2 separate regions of the Homo sapiens genome follow, and region 2 is linked to region 1. Evidence: fine-mapped expression QTL. A gene starts in region 1. The other region holds a variant in brackets. All regions are shown on one strand. Distances are between the middles of the regions.

Evidence for each region. PIP is the estimated chance that this variant, and not a neighbour inherited with it, causes the effect.
Region 2: its variant is fine-mapped to the expression of BACH2 in whole blood (INTERVAL, PIP above 0.99).

What each region holds. Positions count from the first base shown.
Region 1 is chr6:90,293,536-90,301,867 of GRCh38, reverse strand. It overlaps BACH2 (BACH transcriptional regulator 2), which reads left to right and starts at 5,025. Exons shown (of 9, transcript NM_021813.4): 1 at 5,025-5,388. It overlaps LOC124901361 (a long non-coding RNA gene), which reads left to right and starts at 6,662. Exons shown (of 2, transcript XR_007059676.1): 1 at 6,662-8,332. It overlaps LOC105377891 (a long non-coding RNA gene), which reads right to left and starts at 4,629. Exons shown (of 7, transcript XR_942778.4): 1 at 4,132-4,629. RefSeq lists enhancers at 2,811-3,312, 6,630-6,719 and silencers at 5,112-5,161, 5,787-5,846.
Region 2 is chr6:89,924,417-89,932,748 of GRCh38, reverse strand. It overlaps BACH2 (BACH transcriptional regulator 2), which reads left to right. Exons shown (of 9, transcript NM_021813.4): 9 at 1-6,221. The coding sequence ends at 341. Among named protein-coding and RNA genes, the nearest start is that of GJA10, 34 kb to the right of the region's middle. RefSeq lists a silencer at 4,645-4,939. The variant GTGAC/C (reference allele first, on the strand shown) is at 3,647.

The DNA.
Region 1 (8,332 bases):
GTTCAACTGAAATTCCACCTTCTCAGTGAAACCTTTTCTGGCTACTTTAACCTTCATAATTTGTTTTTCCTCTTAACATCTACAATACTTAAGTTCTTGTTAGAATTTAATTATGCATATTTTGAATTTTACAACATTTATTGGCTACCTTTATTACAGAAGTAATATATTTATATTACAGAAAATTTTTTTAAAAAGCAAAAGTAAAACCACTTATAGGCTCTTTATTTCAAGAGAACCACTTGAACACTGTGCATATAGCCTTCCAGATTTTTCCTATGCATGCACTGGCAATTTTTTTTCACAAATAGGATCCTATTGTAAATAGTTATACAAATTATTGTTAAACTATACTAACAAAATATTAATATATCAATATACATAAATTTTCATCACTAATTTTTTTCATTATTATTATTATTTTTGGTAGAGATGGGGTTTCACTATGTTGTCCAGGCTGGTCTCAAACTCCTGAGCTCAAGAAATTTGCCTGCTTCAGCCTCTCAAAGTGCTGGGATTATAGGCATGAGCCACCGTGCCCAGCCACCAATATTATTTTTGATGGATCCATGATATTCATATTTTATATATGAACCACCATTTATTTAGCCAATCATTTCCTGTAAGGCATTTGGATTTTTCCATTTTCTTTTTGCTATCATACAAAAAAGATCTGTACATTCTTAATTTTTTCATTAGTATAAATTATAACACATACAATTTCTATATAATTTTAAATATTAATATATAAAAGTAATAAAATCAAATACAAAATTACATTTTTCAATTGTTTCATGTATATTAGTTTTGACTCCTTATGTAGATTTAAGTTCCTTAAGGATACAGTCCAATGTTTCTTAATTTTTCACCTCAACATGTAACAGATGCTCAGTAGTGTATGTTGAAAAATTAGTTTATTTCATATACCATATTTTACTAGTTTATTTCATATAAGCTTTTAGATAATAGTGGCATCAATTCTTTACTATAGAAGAAGATCACTATAGATAGTAATATAAGAACATCACTTTCTTTTAGGGACTATTTCCAAAGTCCTTCTTAGGAACTGAGGCAATCTTTGAGGAGATGAAGATGGGACAGATAAGAGATATACAGTTTGAAGGAAAAAGGCTGCCAGCCAAATTTAACAATAGCTAGAAGCAAAATTTTTGCTTTTCTGGTTTGGATTGCCCTGATCATTTTTCAAAACTTGTGTGAGATTTTGTACAATGAGAAATCTCTTCTTGGCAGTGGTGTGTCCAGAAAGCCCCCAGGAGTGGGCCCCCAAGGTCCTCTGTGCCGTCCAGCAATTCTGCCACATCCCTGGCACTGGTTCACATCTTTTCTCTATCCCCTAAATCTATCCTTCCCTCCTCCACTATCAGTGAACGGTCTATCTTCTTACTCCACTAAGAAAACAGAATTCCTCAGACAACGGCTTCCCATACTTCCTACCATGATATTCCAGCCTCCCTGCACTTCCCCACCTGTGCTGCCCTTCCTTCTGTTGGTTGGGATGAACTGGCCCCTTTCTCTCTCAAGGAAGCTTCTCAGCTTCCTTGTGGGGATCTTTTTTTCTTCATCTTGCTGACCTCTAAATGTCGGAGTGCCCCAGGTCTTAAACCTTAGACTTCTTCTCTTTGCTCCTCTTCTCCACCCATGTTTCCAGTTGCTGTGTTGATGACACACAGATTTCTATCTCTAGTCTGGACTTCTCCCCTAAATTCTAGATTCCCATGTCTGATTACCTGCTCACCTTTTCCACTTAGATGTCTGATAGACATCTGAAATGTACTATATCCAAAACCAAATGTTTCAGCATTTCCCCCATACCTGCTCCGCCTGGATAAATGAACTCTCCATTAATAAGCTGTTCAGTCCAAAATTCAGAATTTCCTTTGACTCTTCTCTCATATCCTACAATGGAATCATCAACAAATCTTGTCCGGTTTATGCTGAAAATATATCTGGATTCCATTTATGGCTGTCATTCTAGCATTCTATTAATAGTTTAAATCACCATCACCTCTCTAATGACTTATCTCAATAGCCTCCTACTTGGTCTCTCTGCTTCCATTCCTGTACTTCCCGTGACCCAGCAGAGTGATCCTTTAGGAGTTGAGGCCAGGACATGTTCCTTGTCTGCAGAAACCCCTACAGCATCCCACTCCATTCACTTTTGTCAGATTTCATTGGATGTTAAATTTGCCCTGCCATGCCTTATTCAAGGTACCACATTTGAAATTCTGTCTACTGTTCTGCCTAAGAAAAAATACAATATTTTCTCAACATCATCAAATCCTGTACAGGGTGCTGGAGAGCAAGAAAATCAAAGGCTCAAGAACTGCCCATGTCTTTAGTCCGTCTTCCTTTCCTCATCTGTTTCCTGTATATTTTAATTTTTCCTGTTTTATTTTCTACAATCAAGAAGATTTCTATTATAGAAATAAAGTTTATTTGTTTCAATGCCATGATACAGATTTATTGTCCCTGGAAATATCATGCTTAGAAATGAATCACAGACAAAGCCCATGCTCTGGATCAACACACATGTGTAATTATGTAGGAAAAAAATGTATATCAGGAAAGGTTGAATGCTCCAGGCATGAGAAATAAATTGACCTCCACTCAACTTACTGCCATGATTATACAGAGGGAAGGACCTGGATCTGTTTCACATCATAAACGCCTAAATTGCCAGAGCAGCACAAGCCCAGGAGTGGCCATGCAAACTCATGATGGAGGTGCTAAGGCTGTCCACAGCCCAACCTCTGCAGCAGTACTGTTAAATGAGTGTCTAGTACTTGACTTACCATTTTAATTTCACATAATTCTGAATGTATTTTTCGGCTTGAATTCAAATAACCCACTTCTAACTACCGAAAATAAAGTAGAAAAATGAACTCACTACCAGACTTCAAAGCTTATCCAAAGCAAAGATTTCGTCTTACAGCCAGAGGTGCATGATTGCAGAGCTGGATGTAACCTGAGAGGCTAACTACTCCTAATTCAGCCTCCTTGAATGACTGGATGATGCAACCTATCACAGGTGTTTTAGGTTTTTTCATCTCTATTTAATGTCCCACCTCATGCTTGAAAATCTCAAAGTGAAAAAGCTCCAGTCTGAGTCTTTGGGCAAGCAGACTAACTGAAATGACCTGTTAGCCTTTGTTGTATCCATCTGACAAGATCAGCTTGTAGAATCCAGAATGGAGGTGGGAGATCAGCTGGCAGCCTCATTTCCCTCCTCAACCACCCCTACGCTGATGTGCCCAACTCCACTCACAGCTGGGCAGCCACCGCTTGCTTGAAAATAAATGAATCTACACCACTCTCATACGGATGCTCTCAAGCATCCCTTGTTGTGAGAAAAACATTTATTGCTGCTACTAAAATGCGTAAAGTTATCTCACAAACACATACTTACAAGAATGAGGAATGAGAAACAGAACCATCCATAAAACTATAAGAAACGGCCTGGCCAGGGCAGACCAGGAATTAGTACTCTGTCCTTGCCAGGGGTCAGGCAGGGACCTCAGAAGCAGGGTGTTTTGTCCTAGGGGGCACCAGACCAGAGGTCAGGAGACTGAGGGCTACTCCTAGCTCTAGGACTTTTCCTTATCTGAAGGCCGGGTCGGTTAGCAGAGAAAATCTCACAGTCCCGTGCCAGACCTCCACGCAGGGACTCTGCAGTGCTGTTAGAAAAATTAGCTCAGCACCTTCAGCTTGCTTTCAGCCATCACTTAGCTTTCCACACAGACATTCCAAATGGGGCCTTTCAAAACTCTGCCCTCAAATGAAGGTAGTTCAGAGCAACACTTTAGATGATATCACAAGACTCCCAGGACGCTTCACTGCTTCCTCAGCATACGCCAGTGCCCGTTTTACAGGGGGGATTTATGATCCTTCTCTCAGTAGAGCGAGCCAAACTTTTATAATATTCATTAAAAATCAGCACCACGTGTAATAATATGGAATACTGCCTGTACACAAGAGGGCCAAGTTATAGGTGTTTAGGGAAACGTGGCAGAATTTTCTGGCCTTGGCAAGAGGTAAAGTTGCAGGCACCAGCACAACACTAACACAACCTTATTTTATTGCAAATGTACATTCAGCCTAAATCCTAATTACCTTCTGTAAAATCCTAACCACCACCAAGCTTTCTTCTGACAGGGCACTCACACGACGGCCTTTAAGGGCAGCAACAACATCCTAAGAGCCGCAGAAAGGAAAGGCAGGGGAGAGTGGCTGGAAGGCAGTAGGAGCTGGGGCTGAAGCCCGGGAGGTTGGCTTTTAATGTCCTCCTGAAATTGACCACTCTCTTTCCAAAAACACTGGCTTGGGGGCTTAAAGGTTCGCTCAGTAGGGCAGGCGGAGGGCCTCCTGAAAAGGATTGAGAAGTCAACATTCAAAAGGCTGCTTTTACTCGCCCGGTCCCCACCCAAAAGGGAGTCCGGTCAGCTTTGTGGGGGCCAGTGGAGCATCTTTTCTTGCCCTTCCGGGAAAACGCTAGCTAACCCTGGGATCCCCGGTCCCGACGTCTGCTCTCCTTCCCCAGGTGCAGCACCTAGGGCTCTGGCCCCCTCCCCACGTGCCACACCAGCCCTCACCACTACTCTCACCCTGCTATGCCCCCAACCCTCGTCTTTCGTGGCCGGGAAGGCCAGGCCGAGCGGGGCGGTCAGCCGGGCCGGGAGGAGGGGGCTCTCCGGGCCGCGCGGCCGCACAAAGCGGGGAGATCTGCTGCTGCGGCGGCATGAGGCGCGCCCCCTCCCGCGAGCCAGCGGAGCGCGCGCGCCCGCCCCCGTCCCCCGCCCCCCGCCCCAGCCCCCGGAGCGCCATTCGCGGAGCGGCTTACGCTAGTCGCCGGGCGTACCGCGCCCCAGCGGCCGGGGAGGTGCGCTGCCCGGCTCCCGTAAAGTTATTGTGAATGGGGAGCGGGTGACGTCAGCGCCGAATGTCAACAATGTAGCGATTGAGAGTGTGGGCGTTCCGGGGAGAGCGCAAGCCGCGCGGCGCGGAGCAAACAGCGCCGAGCCGCCGCCGCCTCAGCAGCAGCAGCAGCAGCAGCAGCGGCAGCAGCGGCCGTGCACGCCCGGGCTGCGGTCGCACAGCGCTAACGTGAGCGGCCGCCGCCCTCGCCACCCCGCCTGCCCACTCCCGCCGCCGCCCCGCTCTCGCTTTCCCCCCGGCCTCCCCTCGCCCCTTCCCCTCCCCCTTCCCGGCGCACTCGGGGGGCTGGGAACGAGCTGCCATGTGATGCGCGTCCCCTCCGCGAGCTTTCGGTGACCCACGAACTGCCCACCTCGCCGGCTGCCGGGAGGGGGCTGCGAGCCGGGAAGACGCGGGGAAGAGGAGGCGGAAAAGGACGCAAAGTTCTCCGGCGAGGTGAGTCCCGGGCCCCGGGCCCCGGGCCCCGCCGCTGGGCGGGGTGGCGGGGCAAGTTTGCGGGGGGAGCGGGCGCGCGGGGCGGGCGGGGAGGCGTGGGGAAACGGCGCGGGAAGGGAGCCCCGGCCGCCGGGCGCGCAGCCGCCCTCCCCGCGCCCTGCCCGCTTTTATGGCATTTTCTAGGAACGGGAAGGGGGTGGGAGCCGAGCCGGCGGCCGCGCCGCGCCGAATGTGTGCTCTCCCTCCCGGCTGTTTACGGCGGCCGAGGCGCATTGTATTTTGCTGGCGTCGAAGGGTGTTTTGGAACAGCAGAGGGAGGAGGAGCAGAGAGTAATAAGTCAGGCATGGGGAGGGCGGGCTGCAGGAGGCGCGCGTCCGCGCGAGCCGCAGCAGCTGTCAGACCCGCGGCCCTGCCCCCGGCCCGGCGAGGCCCGGGTGTCCCGGCCCCCAGCCTGCGATCCCAGCTCCAGGCCGGGCGGCCTCCTCCTTAACCCTCGGCGTGCGCATCCCGGGCTGCTCCGCGAGGACCTTGGCCGCGGCGCCTTTGCGCTCAGCTGTCAGCCGCCGCCGGGTGGCCCGGACCACCGCGACCGGCGGGGAATCAAAGCCCAAGTTTAGGGTCGCAGGAAGAGGCGAGCTGGGGGCCTCGCGGCGCAGACCTGGATCGAATCTCTCCTAGCGAAAGATCGGGTTGTCGGAAAGCGTCCCGCGTAGCTAAGACCTAAGGGCGCCAGGCTTCTGAGAGGGAAACCTTGCACCTCCTCTCCCACAGATCCTCCATGAAGTCAAGGTGCAACACACACACACACACACACACACACACACCCTACACTCCAGTCTCCAAGCCCCAGAAGCTTCACCCAGGAGACTGGTTTATGAAGGGGACACTGCCCTCCCCGTCCCCGCGTCGAGGCGCTCCGTGGCCCCGCTGTGCTTCGCTCACCCGGCGGGTGTTCGGGAGCCCGGCGCCGCTGGAGACGGCGGCGGGCGGCGCTCACGGGCTACCCTAGGTGCCCACGAGGGGAGAGACTGGAGCGAGCATCTCGGCGACCTCGGTCTGGCCAAGCATTTGCAGGAACTCGGACCGTGAGGGGAAGCGTGCAGGGCCGGGAGTGAGTGTGTGAAGGGGTGGCACACTCCTGGCTTCTGGGGTCGCGGGCGCATGGGGCATCCCCAGCACTCTCCCGCGCGTAGGCGAGTTTGGTAACTTGAGGGAAGTTCCGGCGCGGCCGCTGCCGGGGTGGTTTGTCTGTGGCCCGATGAGGCGCGCCTCGCAGCCTGCTCTCCCGGTCACCGCCGTCGCCGTGACCTGTGGCCTCCAGGAAACGAGAGGGACCGGGGCGCCCCACCCGCGAGACGGACCCGCAGTCTCCCGGCGGGCCCGCGGGCGGCGAGACGCGGCGTTCCTGGTTTTCACCTTCGCTGTCTAGTGCTGCAGTCTCTCACTCTCTGTAAATTTCATCTGTTGAGTGTATTTAACTAAAAAGGGTAATTACTTTAGATAAAAATCCTTTCCTGCCTAGTGGGAACCTTGGCGGAGATGATGCCTAATGAGATATTTTGCTTTTGTCTGTTTAGAGTAAAATTAGAGATGTTAACGCTGATAACGGTTTTCTCAGATCATTAAAATGTAACATGTAGGAAAGGCACGTCTTGCTGCAAAGGCTCGGGCTGACATGAAAGAAGCTGAGCGTGAAAGGCTGCCCCTCCTTTGGCGGAGAGGGCTATTTTGGTAAGGCAGCGGGCGTCTTGCTTAAAATGTGAGATCGCCCCACCCTGGTTCTCGGGCACCTCCCGAGTAAACGGCGTTTTTCATTCTTGCAGGTAATAATAAACGTGAGTCAAAATGACATCTTGTTAGAATTAGTCTTTAGTCTGTAAGAGAGATTGCCAAATTACAGTGTTGCGTTCAAACTGCTCCACTGAAAGGTCTGTCAGCATTTCCATTATAAATTCAGTTTTTCTGGAGTTTATAATTTCACCACAAAACTTTGAGTGGCTGAAATGTTTTCCCTTCTAGTATTCTGGTTTTTGAAAGAAATTTATTGATTGCCCATTTCCAACGTTTTTTTTACTCTCGAAACCTGAATATCATTGAAATAGAGCGAAGTCCCAGAAATGGAACACACAACCATGGAATAAAGTATTTTTGTTAGAACATAACTTTATTGGTGCAGAGCCGTATTTTCGTTTTGCATTGCAGGAGGCTTCAGGTTTGCCATTTGGTAATCATGAATGTGTTGAGTAAATTCTTCTGCTGTCTGTCTATTCTGCAGGTGGACTGAAATGTCAGTTGGTAGTGTGTTTGCCAGGATTACATGGAGACACACACTTCTCAGTTAAGTGTGTGTCTGAACTCATAGCTAAATTGTGAACACTCCTGTTAGTTACTTTTTTGGTTCTTTGTATGTTGCATGTCAGGATCTGCTATGAAGAAGAAGGGGTGAGGTGAAAGAGAGGGAGGGGATCAGGATTCACTTTCTGTATTACCAGTGCCTGGGAGAAAGCCATTTATTATTTTCCTATTGAATTATGCCCTTTGACTTAGTATCTTCAGGCAATTCTTTTCCAGTAGCTCACCTCTGGCTGCTGTGTAAGGGGCTTAATTATTTGCAAACTGCCTTGAAATCCCTGGATGAAAGGCACTGAATAAGTGCACAGTATTGTTATTCAGATATGGAATTTAATGATCCATTATAGTTCATCAGGAAAATGCACTTTGCAGTGATGGTAGGAAATGTTTCCACCTGATAGAGGGTAATAATAACTGCTTAAAAGTAGATTCAGATTACAGATGAGACAATTAACTCTAGCCATGTGCTCTTCAATTTGTTGCAATTCATTTTGTGATCAAAGTGAGTCACAGAGGGCCAGATGGTCAGGTTCATGTTCAGATCTCTCCTAGGCCAGCCCTTCACTTCTGGGCCCACTGTCTGCACAGCCG
Region 2 (8,332 bases), 370 kb after region 1:
ATTGCCCTGTCCTCAGACCCATGGACTTGCCCACGGCCTCCAGTATTAACCCTGCGCCCTTGGGTGCTGAGCAGAACATTGCGGCCTCCCAATGCGCAGTGGGGGAAAACGTGCCCTGCTGCTTGGAGCCAGGCGCGGCTCCCCCCGGACCCCCCTGGGCACCCAGCAACACCTCCGAGAATTGTACCTCTGGGAGGAGACTAGAAGGCACTGACCCGGGAACCTTCTCAGAGAGAGGACCTCCTCTTGAACCCAGGAGCCAAACAGTGACCGTGGACTTCTGCCAGGAAATGACTGATAAGTGTACAACTGACGAACAGCCCAGGAAAGATTATACCTAGTGACTCGGCTCTGCCTCCCAGTCCGCACACCTCTCCCATCCAGGCGTTCTTCAGTCAGCCTGTGGCACTGTTCATCTGCTGTCCCGAAGAAACCGAGAACACATTTGGTGCACACTACAGCGGTCTTAGCAGCAATACTGTTCCGAAGTATCCTCTCCTCTTCTCGAGCAGGAGTGATAGTTACCTTCACAATGGTGCTACCCCTTGCCCAGGCAAGGAAAGACAGCAGTGATGACACTGTCTGTCTGTGGCTCAATTTCAGTCTTCACAGGGATAGACTACAACACCTCTAGGCCCCAACCACGGATTTTTTTTCTCAGTGGCCCATGTCACAAACCCTATCTCAGGAATTTCTTCTGAATGTTCAATTTTTTTCATTGAAGACAGCTTCTATACACATCAAAGTTTTATAGCTAGACTGTACATATTATATATAATATATATATAAAATATATATATATATATATATATATCCATATGCAAAAGTCCTGCATGCCTCAACTTTCTCATCCTAAAACTGGAAACTTATTTCTCATTTAGAAACAGGTTCCAACATTCCTCTTCTTTTGTCTCTGATGCTAGAACTAGTTTGGTAACTGTTAACATGGTCATTTTTCTTGCTTCACAGTTCAATTTTCAATTCGTACTTATTTATGGACAAAATTCAGTGTTGGAAGCTTTTTCCCAAGGTTTTATTTCAGATTTCTTTTTCGTTTGGTTTGGTTTTGGCACCTCCAAGTGGTGTCATTTGAGCATTGTAGGTTTGTTTTTTGTTTGTTTGGGGGGTTTTGTTTGTTTTTGTTTTTGTTTTTGTTTTCCTTGCAGATACTGTACAGTAATGGTCAACTTTGCCACTTGCACTGAGTTTTGGGTCAAACCTATTTTCTTAAATGAAGTTGTAACTTCGGTATAACTCAAGTATACTGTATATTCTTTGCTTTTAGTTAAAAAAGTAAAACATTTTAGCTAATTAAAAAGCACTCAGGTGATAATTATGTAGGAAAAACAATCTTGCCAAATAATGAATTCATCCTAGGATGTGTAGACAATAATCTGCTTGAATATTTTTATATTTCACCTCCTCCCCACCTTTCCCTAAGCAAAGTTTAAACGCAGATAGAGAGTTCAGAGTTGATGCTGGATGTTCAGATTCCTAAGTGGGGAGAGAGTTTGGACATCTCACTCAAAAGTACATCAGAAAAACAGGAATCCGTGATTTTATACCAGAACTCAGCAGGCATTGGCTCCTAGAAATCAAGTTAGAAAGTTTTCACCCAGGGAGTAAGTCCCATTCATTTCAACACGTCCTGAGGCCTCGGCTTGCTCTTGGAAGTGTTGTGCAGTAGGACCTGCTCCCCTGAAGGACGGGGCCAACCAGCCACTGGCTTTCCTGCCCAGGCTTGGCCTCCCAGGACATCTGGCCTGAGGGGATTTGAATCACAGCCCCGAAGGTCCTGCCTTCACCCCATTGGGAGAGAGCAGGGCATCCTGGCATCTGCGATCCATCCCTGACACAGGCTGACACATTCTTTCTCCTTTCCTTCTCCAAAGGCTTGGAGTTTTCTTCTGAGGTTTTTCTGCCAGTGTCTTGTCTGAAGGCAGACTTCATTCTGAGGCTTTGGACAAGCTATCACCGGGAACCCTCCCTGTCCCCTTCCCGAATCACACACATACCCTACCCTCACCTGATGATAATTTTCTCTTCTTGCTGCAAAACTGGTTGGCTTGCAACCCAGAGAGAGCAGCTTCCCTTGGCTCTGGGGCCGTGTTGGCCCCAGCCACGTTTACAGGAAGGTGTGCCCCAGAGGAGGAGGAATCAGCTCCCTCGCTCCAGTGGCCTTGGGTCCGGGTCTCACTGAGCAGCCCGAGGGCCACTCCAGCCCGGCTGGGGAAGAGAGTCCTGAACGGTTTGATGTGGGGATGGGGTGGTGGGCAGTGGGGAATAGATGGTTGACTTTGTTTCTTTATTTGTGCCATTGTTTGGACAATATTAAAGCTGCATGTAAAAGGGGAAATTAGTATATGATGTAGGCTAAAAGTGAAATCATAGTAACATATGTTTTAGTATTATTAACTTTTTTCTGTACAAATATTAGCACTAAATGTTTAAATATGTATGAATGCCAGAAATTTGTCAGTTCATGCAGTAGGATAAAAAAAAAAAAAAAAAAAAAAAAAAGGCTTTTCTTTTTAAACAGTTCCACTTTTAAAACCTGCCTCTGGGTTTTTGTTTTTTCTTGTTTGTGTGTGTGTGTGTGTGTGTGTGTGTGTGTGTGTGTGTGTGTGTGTGTGTCTGAAACAGATCTTGATAAAGCTCTGTGTTGGAGCTGCTGGTTTTTGTTATGGTTGTTGGAATTTCTTGGCCTACTAGGACAGTTCTGTGCTTCACCATGAGGTTTGCCTTTGTGGAAAACTGGTGACAGTGAGAATATAAACTCAATGTGAATCACGTGATACTTCGCAGGCGTGTGTTACAGTGGAGTCAGCTGACAGTATTTTGCTTTTTAACTCTATTGTTGCCTTTCCAAGTGACCTCTCCTCTTCTTTTAAAAAAAGAACACTTTCTGCTCATATCATAACCAGGTCCAACCCAGCTTCTTGGCATGAGGTTTACCCTGGTAACAACTCATGTGCAACTGGTAGTCTTGACCACATTCCATCCATTTCCTCAGGTTTCTGTGGTTCAGTAGCCCAGACCTGTTTGGCAGCCATTTCTAGCAGGGGCGGGGCCTCTTTATTTCTCTCCACCCTAACTCAGACCTCACCTTCCTCCCACCCACCCCTGCCTTGCTTTTCTTCCTCTTCCCCCAACCTAACTTCTGCCATGGGAACTGGTTAAAAACACTGCTCTAAAAACCATCTTCCAATTTCATAGAGATTTCTCACAAGTTATTTCATTCATAATCCACCATGAACAGTGACTAGCTTCGTGCAGTTGTTCATGTGATGTGTGTGTGTCTTTTCCTATTCAGAACTATGTGCTTGTCAAAATTATTTCTGGGTTGATTCAAAGGGAGGACTTGCTGGGGACCAGAATCCAAACGGCCTCAAGTGGAATTTTAAAACCTAGCCTGTCTCTTTTCCCTGGGATCCCTCTGTCAACCCCACGCCTTTTAGGAAAAAGAAAAGTGAGTGAACAGCAAGGAAGAGTGTTTGCACAGTACAGTAACATTTGGTTGTTCTTAAGGCTCTTTTCTTACAAAAATAAGAGACCCTCCAACCACGGGCTGTTTAGGAGGATGCCTGCTTGGGTCTCCAAATGGCTGGGGTAGGAATGGTTGTTGGGGCAGAGCCAGTGGAGGTGA[GTGAC/C]CCTGAGACTAATGAACATCCCACCTAAATCCAGTCCTCCCCTTGGATCTGCCTTTGTCCTGCTTGTGTATCCAGGCAACCTCTTTTCAAGTTGGTCAGGCTTTGGACAGGTGAGTGATTTGCTGTATGTGTTTGTTTCTCTGCGTTACCTGGGGGTGCCTTGATTAAAATCGAACTTTATTACATACTGATTCTGGAACAAAACAGTTAGAAAAACTTTAAAAAAAAAAAAACCGACAAAGTTACGAGGCCATCCTGCTATTTATCTTCTGAGTTCCCAGCAATGACTCAGGCATCAGAGATGATGCTGCAGTGGAAAACCTGACTCTGTGTGTCTGCAACTGAATGTTGTGCGAGTAATTTATTAACTGTCTTTCTAAAGGTTTGCTGCTTTTAAGATGCACTATAATTCGGGATGTAATCCTTACATTGCTTTTCCAAGGAAGGGAACAAAAGTCTAGTGATTAGTATGCCAACTGCCACTACTCCTTCAAAAGGAGCCAGGACCAGCGACAAGACTCATGAGAGGACTGGCTAAAGTGAAGTGTGCACAGTGTGAAGTTTAATGCTGTTGTCAAGAGGCCTAAACCCACATTTTCTCTTTTAATATTTTATGATTGCCATCAAAGAAGAAGAAAAAGAAGGAACAGACAAAGGTTTGAAAATGATAAGCCTGTTAAGACACCAAAAACTCCTGTCCCGTGAAGCTGCTTGACATCCTGTGGAGTAGCATAATCCTCTCAAAATGAGGAAGAGCTGCCTGCAAAGCTTTCTCAAGTCCCTATTTGGCTACCTACTTCTCTACATTATGCCCCATTTAAACTAGGAGCTGTCTTAGAAATGACTTCAAACTGCTTCACTATTGCTTACAGTTTAGGAGGAGTCTCAGATCCAGAAGGAGCAAGAATCAAGTTTGGTCCTCAAATGACTGTAAATAGACTAAAGAACAAGGTGTTTTTTGTTTTTGTTTTTGTTTTCTAAGAATAAAGCTGTTCGTTGTATCATGAGTTAGTGTTTCTTCCCCAAACTGAAGACTGTGTTGGAAGTGCAATTTCTGGTGAGTCAGTCCACAATACAATGCCCTGTGTGGAGTTGGTATTCATACAGGAAATCTGTGTGCACGAGGCATTGTGTGTTGAAAGTGTATGTTTATAGTACTGCCTGAGCCATCTCATGACCCCAGCGTCCAAAACCGATGCTGTAGAACAGAACATATCTGTACACAAATAGTGTGTGCAAATAGCATTTGTACATAGAAAAGTCTCATTGTGGCAGATTGAGCATAAATTATTCAACTGACGGTGCAAAAACATTACTTGCAAAGAAAAGTTTATAGTATTTTCCTACACTCCACCCTGGGAGATGATATTTCTATCAAATGAATATCAGTGCATTTTAAATGTAATATGAAAACGATGCTGCCATTTTGTGAAGAATACCCACTTGGTTGCAGAGGCCAACTTTCATAGCTTTGATTTAATGTTGTGACACGGTGTATGCATTTTGCTGTCAAGCAATGGATAAACAGCTCTGACTTTCATTCTCATTCCAGTTTATTGACCTCAGATAAAACACTGGCCCTTCTTAGAAGCAGAAGTGTGCACCAAGACCATTCATTTCAGGTAGACTCACATTCAGTGCCAAGTGCTCCCATGGGAATAATCAGACGCATATGTTGCGAAAGAGTGAAGGGACTTGGACAAAGAGGGGTTTTCCTACAGATGGATGCTCAGTCTTCTACCAAAACATGTTTGGAGGCAGAACTATGACCTCCCCTTAAGTCCTAACAATGTATTTTGTGTGTGCAAATCCTGGGATGCCCGTTTCACGCTCTGACATAAAGACATGGCACCTCTAGTGAGTGATCAGGAAGATTCCATATGCATTTGGGAGCTTCAGGTGCTTGTTAGACACAGTGAGCCATTCAAGGCAAGCACCACCTTTGCTAGTGAGGCCAAGAGAGCCTGTGACAATTTGACAATTTGTTCCAGAACCAGTCTGATGCAAGTGCACCTCTAATATATGCCTTACAAACTCCAGAGGCCATATTCAAAACAGGGTCTTCTCAGTGTATGCAAGGGGCTGCAGCCCCTCTTCTCTTCCTCCCCAGGTTGAACAATACGGACAGTTTTCACACATATCTACCTGTATAACCCTCTGTACCTCTCATAACTGGTCAACGACTGTAACAGGTTACATCAGGTGTTTTTCTACATACTTTTTACACAGATTCTATGCGATTAATGTAATTTAATTCAATGCATCATTTTATTGTACTAGTTCTTAGGCTTGTCCTTATTTTTTTCTAAGTGATTGTGGTTTTTCTCGTGGTTTTTATTGTAAAAAATGAAAGGCTGTTGATGCTTATTCTCTGTAACTAAGAATTTTTACCTTTTGGGGGAAAAAAGCATTGCTATGAACTAATGAATTGAAACTTCATTTACTCATTGTAAATACACTATTGTGCAAAAAAAGTTTTCACTCAATTGAATTGCTAGTGTTAACTGAATTTTGTCTAGACACCATTTCTGTTGATGAAATAAAGACATATCATTATGCATTGTAAACTGATTTTCTCTGCCTCTGATCCCTATGTTCCAAATTACAGAGTGAGAAACCTCAGGAAATCTTTTTTCCTAGAGGCCATTTCTCTTCCTCTAGTTTGGACCCTTACTTGCTACCTGATTAATCTGATTAGGAATCTTTAAAATTGGATAATATTAATGTGATTCCTAAACTCTGAATTTTAAAAATCCCTAGTGCCTGTGAGAGTAGATAAAAGGCTTTAAACCCAATTTCTCGGTTTTGATATTGTGCTATCGCTATGCAGAATGTTACCACGGGAGAAAACTGGGTGATGGGTATCATTTCTTGCAACTGCATGTGAATCTGCAATTATATCCAAAATAGGCTGAATTTTTTAAAAACTAAATGAAAGTAAATGAGAAAGAACATTAAGCCAACACCAAGATGCAGTGAGTTGCAAGGAAAGATGTTTAGAATTGTGGTTGAGGAATCCATACAGTCATGCATTGGTTAGTGAAGGGGGTACGTTGTGAGAAATGCATCCTTACGCAATTTCCTATTGTGAGAACATCAGGGTGTGCCACACCAACCTAGATGAGAAAGCCTATGACACACCTAGACTAGATGTTCCTAGATTGCAAACTTGTGCAGCATGTAACTGTACTGGATATGGTAGGCAATTGTAACACCAGGGTAAGTAGTTGTGTATCTTAACATAGAAAAGTTGCAGTAAAAATAGGGTTTACAATCTTATGGAACCGCTGTCATATATTCGTCCCATCATTGACCAAAACATGGTTATGCCATGCATGACTGTACAGTTTAAAAGTTGTATTCTAAAAGTGTATTTGATAGTTATGTCTTCGATTTTGATGTAAAGAGAAAACAAGATATCAAATGGTGGGCAGGTCGAGTGACCATGAGCGAACACTGGACTGGAGCTCGGAGGTGAGAGAAAGCCACTAGAGCAGAGCAGGGGGGTCTGAGCTGTCAGCGAGGCTGTAACCAGTGCATGCGCATGGTATCCGGGCAGGGCAGGGCTGTGCTGCCGAGATTCACGCTTCAAGGAGTGCATGCGACCGCCAGATGGGAAAACGGAAATTAAAAACTGCCAAGTTCTGCTCCCTCGGGCGAGTCTCCATGGGCACCTATGGAGTCAAGGAAGGCTTCCTGAGAGCAGGTCATGGGTTTTGCAAATGTGTGCTGCTGTGACAACGTCGCAGTCATAACATTTTCGGTACAAGAGGCGGATTACCTACGCCTGAAGATGTGAAGTTAATCCACTCTGAGAAAAACAGGTGGGTCAGAGTCCCAAAATTTTCTGTGGGAAAACCTGGTAATTTAGAACTGATGGTCATGTGCACCTTCAACCCTGACATCTGCTCTTGTGATACAAATAATGGTCATGCATTGAAGGAAAATAAACCTCACCAGCTGTTGCGTCCTGCAAAACAGGCGTCCCCGACCCCTGGGCCGCAGACTGGTTCCGGTCCATGACCTGTTAGGAACAGGCCGCACAGCAAGAGGTGAGCAGCTGGGGAGTGAACATTACTGCCTGAGCTCCACCTCCTGCCCCATCAGCGGTGGCACTGGATTCCCATAGGAGCGCGAACCCTACTGTGAACGGTGCATGTGCGGGATCTGGGTTGCAGCTCCTTATGAGACTCTAATGCCTGATGATCTGAGGTGGAACGGTGTCATCCCGAAAACATCCCCCCACCCCCGCTGCCTCTGGTCCGTGGAAAATTTGTCTTCCACGATACCAGTCCCTGGTGCCAAAAAGGTTGGGAATCGCGGCTACAAAAGAGCTTTTAAGCACTGTCCAGCCCCAGGTGGACAGCAGCCATTTTCTTTCCTACTTTACATGTGCTTCTTATGGGAAATTTGTATCTGCCTCTGGGGCAGTGAGGACAGGTTCCTTCTACACCAGGCCCTGCCAGCAGTTTTGTTGTATGTATTTGGAAATAACTGAGCTGTTCTTTGAAATCATTTTAGAGTCTTTCACTCTTCTCCAACCCACCACCTCACCCAACTCTGCCCCACCACTTGGGATGCATTAGCAAGATTGTACTTAATGTTTAACAGCAGCTGGTGAAGGTGCCGTGAGCAGAAATGGGTTTCCAATTCTCCTCACTGAGCACCTATGCCTTCGTGGT